2 separate regions of the Homo sapiens genome follow, and region 1 is linked to region 2. Evidence: fine-mapped expression QTL. A gene starts in region 2. The other region holds a variant in brackets. All regions are shown on one strand. Distances are from middle to middle.

Region 1 (2,798 bases), 540 kb after region 2:
TGTAACTATTACATTTCCTGGCCAGGCGCAGTGGCTCACGCCTGTAATACCAGCACTTTGGGAGGCCGAGGTGGGCGGATAACGAGGTCAGGAGATTGAGACCATCCTGGCTAACACAGTGAAACCCCGTCTCTACTAAAAATACAAAAAAATTAGTCGGGCGTGGTGGTAGGCACCTGTAGTCCCAGCTACTCAGGAGGCTGAGGCAGGAGAATGGCGTGAACCTGGGAGGCAGAGATTGCAGTGAGATCGCACCACTGCACTCCAGCCTGGGCAACAAGCGAGACTCTGTCTCAAAAAAAAAATTTCCTAAAAAATTTAAAAGATGATATCCCATCTGGTTAGGTTAGGCTAAAGCTGGTACAAAAAAAAAAAAAAAAAAAAAAAAAAAGCACCATAAATGATTATGACTCTTGGAAAAGAAAACTGGTAATAAAACAGTCAACCAAACAAAAAAACAAAATACCAACATATTCACTCCAGTAATATGTATTAGAAGAAAAAACTGGCAACAACCTATTTGAAAATTGATTAAACAAATTATGGTATATCCACTCAAAGAAATAGTACATAATCATTTTAAACAATTGCAAAGACTCTAGCACCATAGAAAATTACATAGTATCAGATGAAAAGAGCAGCTCACGTAAACTTATACCTGTGCTATGATTATAACTATCTGAAAATGAGGCATTCATTTAGTCCCAGGCCAAAGGGAATAATGGAGAAAAAAGGAAAACTTCTGGACTATCCAAGATGGCAGTGTTGTGGAAGTATTTTTTCCCCTTTTCATTTCTATTTACATTAATTTTTGTGTAGGAAATAATCACTTTTTTTTTTTTTTTTTGAGACAGAGTCTTACACTGCACTGCTGGAGTGCAGTGGTGCAATCTTGGCTCACTGTAGCCTCTGCCTCCCAGGTTCAAGCAATTCTCCTGCCTCAGCCTCCCAAGTAGCTGAGATTACAGGTGCCTGCCACCACGTCCGGCTAATTTTTGTATTTTTAGTAGAGACAGCATTTCGCCATGTTGGCCAGGCTGGTCTTGAACTCCTGACCTCAAGTGATCCACCTGTCTTGGCTTCCCAAAGTGCTGCGATTACAGGGTGAGCCACAGTGCTCAGCCAAAATGTCATTAACCTCATTTAAAAATTACAACCCTTAGGCCGGGCGCGGTGGCTCACACCTGTAATCCCAGCACTTTGGGAGGCCGAGGCGGGTGGATCATGAGGTCAGGAGATCGAGACCATCCTGGCTAACAAGGTGAAACCCCGTCTCTACTAAAAATACAAAAAATTAGCCGGG[C/T]GCGGTGGCGGGCGCCTGTAGTCCCAGCTACTCGGGAGGCTGAGGCAGGAGAATGGCGTGAACCCGGGAGGCGGAGCTTGCAGTGAGCCGAGATTGCGCCACTGCAGTCCGCAGTCCGGCCTGGGCGACAGAGCGAGACTCCGTCTCAAAAAAAAAAAAAAAAAAAAAATTACAACCCTTGAACTATCTCAACAGTATCAGAGCTTTATCTGTTCCTACTGACAGCAAAGTGCTGCTCTGCCCAAGGGAAAGAAATAGAGGCACAGGGGACCCCACAAGTCAGAAGCAGGAGGGAAGGGAGGAGCCTGCCAGACAGGACCTCTACTTCAGGAAACCTGGTGCCAATGCCACACACAGGGTTGTTGGACACCACAGTGCCCAGGCAAGTGTGCACACAGGGTCACTAGCTCAAAATTATTTTTTGAGAATCAGGCCTAAAGTCAGCTGAATTCCAACCCACAGTCGGCAGGCCTATTATTAGGCATAATTTCAAACAGCCAAGAGGCTGCAAGCATCCTATATCCACCACATGCTTCTGTAACTCTGCAAGGAGATGCTATAAATCTGCTCCTGAGCAGACCAAAGGCACCTGGGCCCTATCCTGGCCCCACCCCCACTCCATGGCTATCTGTCTTATTTTCACAGGGGCATCCCAAGATCACTTCAGATGACCACATATGTGAGCAGGATGGCCAAACAGTTCCCAAAAAGGGGGCAGGAGAAGGGTGGGAGCAGGACATCTCTGGGGCTAGCTAGAGGCTCCTGTGGGATTTTCTTAAATGCTGAGCGTAGGGGCTTCTGAGATGTCATTGAATATATTTTTTCATTCAAAGGTTGTATTAATACATAATTTCTAAACCTTCAGAGGCAAAAGGGAGGTAATTAGTGTTGCCACTTATAGGCTAAAAGGATGTTCCATTTTATAATTCATTCAAATATAATTTTGAGGCCGGGCCTGGTGGCTCAAGCCTGTAATCCCAGCACTTCGGAAGGCTGAGGCAGGCAGATCACACCTGAGGTCAGAAGTTCAAGACCAGCCTGGCCAACATGGTGAAATGCTGTCTCTACTAAAAATACAAAAACTGGCCACATACGGTGGCGGAAACCTATAATCCCAGCTACTCAGGAGGCTGTGGCAGGAGAATCGCTTGAACACAGGAGGTGGAGGTTGCAGTGAGCCAAGATCACGCCACTGAACTCCATCCAGCGTGGGTGACAGAGTGAGATTCTGTCTCTTAAAAAGAAATAATAATAAAACAAACAAATACAATTCTGAATTAAAATTCAAAAGATATCAATGACCAATCCAAAGCAGAAGTGGGCAAAAGCTATATGAAAATTAGAGACTTCACTGAACAACCCAAAAAAGCTCAAAACAAAAGGAAAGAAACAAACTAGCAGAACAAATGGTATAGCTAGATAAAAAGGGCTAGTATTGTAAAGACGTTAAGTCTCCACATATTAGTTTATAAAATTCTAATAGGTTCCAGTCAAA
Region 2 (2,798 bases):
CGCGCCTGGCCCTGTTGCATGTTTTAAAATAGATATACTTAGAAATATTACATGGAACCCCCAAAGTATGTACAACTATGATATGTCAATTTAAAAAAACTTTAAAAATTGCCATTGTTTCCAACAACCCATTCTCTGGAAATCAGGATTCTCAAATCTCAATAAACATCAAATTCATAAAAGAGGAAGACTTCAGGAATCTGAACAATCATTAAATACCTAAATGTTTCACTATTAGTCAACAAAAAAGTTAAACTCAATTTTAAAACCAAACTAGCTTATAAACACTAATTGAAACTTGCTTAGGGTGTATTTATTTGCCTTTCAATTTCTTCAGGGGTTAAATAAATTAACGAATGATATCATACCACCAGCCAACCTAAATCCCTACCTAGCATGATCAGTTTGGTTTCGCTGTACACCAGACAGCCAAAACTTGCAAGGTTTTGATTGAACAACAAATACTGCGTGCTTACTCTGTACCAAGCATCAGGACTAGATGTTTACCATGCTTTATTTCATTTGATCCTCACAACACCCTCATGCACTGTCATCCCCATTTTACAGTTGAGGAAAACTGCAAAGTTCAACCTGAGACCATCCGATTCCAAAACGTTTCAGGGAGCTGCGTTAAAGCGAGCACTGAGTTTGGAAGCTTCAAGTTCTAGGCTCAGCCACGTACTAAGCTTCAAAATGCATGGGAGGAGGTTTGTGGGGAGTGCTACCGCCGGGATCCAAGCTCCACTGGAAGGATTAACTATAGAAGTTACAGTGCTTTACAAATTCTTCCCTCCTCACCAAGTGCCAACCAAAACTACTACGCCAGGACACACGTTTTAGAACTTTCCCTAGATGTTTAAAAGTCAGAGACGACCAAGAGTTTAGAGACGCCGCACGTGGTGCTACCAGACTTCTGGTTTTTGAAGCCACCGCCTTGCAGGAGAAGCCTTTCCTGCACTCCAGGCCGTGAGTCGCGCTCACTTCATGTTCCCCACAGCCCCCAAATGCCAAAGGCTCCTCTAGGTCCCTGGCGCGTGTGACTCGCGGCGGGCACTAAGCGCAGACCCATGGGAGATCTCCTCCTGAACCCCAGCAACGGGGGTGGGGTGAGGTAGGGTGGGTAGGAGAGGTTGATCCGAATCCCAGGGTCCCACGCCATCGTAGATTTCGTATGAAAAGAAACAAGGAAAAAAAAAAGTTGGAGCCAAGTTTTCTTCACCCAACTTTTTGCCCTCTCCCACGTGGGTTGGTCTCTTTCTCCCAGGCTGGGCCATGCCCCCTCCGCTCGCTGCAGGCCTTTTGCCAAGCAAACAGACCGTGCGGCAAAGCAACACAGCTGCGGGGATCCTAAGGTTTCCTGAGTTCTAACCTCGGGCCAGGCTGCTGGGACCCCGCCGCTGCTGGGGTTCTAACTAAGGGCCCGGCGGTTAAGACCCAACGCCGGCGGATGAGACGGCGCAGGCTCTAAGCCTCCATCTAACAGGCTAGGGAGTGAACGCAACCCTGAGTCTCCCGCTTCCCGGTCCCTCGGCCGGCGCACGCACTCACCATGGCTGCGGTTCCGCGGGCTCAGCACTCCTAGGGGAGCGCAGCTGACGTTTCAGAAGCACTCGCGTGCACCGGAAAAACTCACAGAAGCAGCAGCGGAAATGGCCCCGCGCGGCAGGAAGCGAAGGTGACGCTACGCGAGCGAGTGGGCCCCGCCCTCTACGGGGGCACTGGCGCGGAAACTGGCCCTGTGTCGAAGAAGGAACGTACTTTGGCGTTCTTATGAGCTGCCTAGTACAAATTATTGGCAGAAACAATGAATTAAACATTCAAAAAGTAACCCACCGGCCGGCCGCAGCGGCTTATGGCTGTAATCCCGGCACTTTGGGAGGCCGAGGCGGGCGCATCACCTGAGGACAGGAGTTCGAGACCAGCCTGGCCAACATGGCGAAACCTCGTCCCTACTAAAAAATACAAAAATTAGCCAGGCGTGGTGGCGGGCGCCTGTAACCCCAGCTACTTAGGAGGCTGAAGCAGGAGAATCGCTTGAACCCCGGAGGTGGAGGCTACAGTAAGTTGAGATCATGCCACTGCACTCTAGCACTCCAGCTGAGGCGACAGAGCGAGACTCTCAAAAAAAAAAAAAAAAAGGCCGGCCGGGTGCGGTGGCTCCCGCCTGTAATCGCAGCACTTTGGGAGGCTGAGGCAGGCGGATCACTAGGTCAGGAGATCGAGACCATCCTGGCTAACACAGTGAACCGTCTCTACTAAAAATACAAAAAATTAGCCGGGCATGGTGGCGGGCGCCTGTAGTCCCAGCTACTCGGGAGGCCGAGGCAGGAGAATGCCGTGAACCCCGGAGGCGGAGCTTGCAGTGAGCCGAGATCGCACCACTGCACACTGCACTCCAGCCTGGGCAACAGAGTGAGACTCCGTCTCAAAAAAAAGAAGAAAAAAAAGAGGGCCGGGTGCGGTGGCTCACGCCTGTAATCCCAGCACTTTGGGAAGCTGAGGCGGGCGGATCACCTGAGGTTGGGAGTTCGATACCAGCCTGACCAATATGGAGAAACCCCCGTCTCTACTAAAAATACAAAATTAGCCGGGCGTGGTGGCGCATGCCTGTAATCCCAGCTACTCGGGAGGTTGAGGCAGGAGAATCGCTTGAACTTGGGAGGTGGAAGTTGCAGTGAGCCGAGATCGCGCCATTGCACTCCAGCCTGGGCAACAAGAGTGGAAACTCGGTCTCAAAAAAAAAAAAAAAAATTCCAGCCACTAAACAGTTAAGGCCTGGCTCATTATAATTGGCTGAC

Evidence for each region. PIP is the estimated chance that this variant, and not a neighbour inherited with it, causes the effect.
Region 1: its variant is the best candidate, but not a certain one, in a credible set for the expression of SNU13 in whole blood (INTERVAL, PIP 0.66).

What each region holds. Positions count from the first base shown.
Region 1 is chr22:42,224,171-42,226,968 of GRCh38, forward strand. The region is part of intron 1 of TCF20 (transcription factor 20); the gene reads right to left. Among named protein-coding and RNA genes, the nearest start is that of TCF20, 45 kb to the right of the region's middle. The variant C/T (reference allele first, on the strand shown) is at 1,304.
Region 2 is chr22:41,687,246-41,690,043 of GRCh38, forward strand. SNU13 (small nuclear ribonucleoprotein 13) reads right to left here and starts at 1,622. Exons shown (of 3, transcript NM_001003796.2): 1 at 1,549-1,622. The coding sequence starts at 1,551. It also overlaps the pseudogene C22orf46P. RefSeq lists enhancers at 822-991, 1,542-1,721 and a silencer at 1,103-1,302.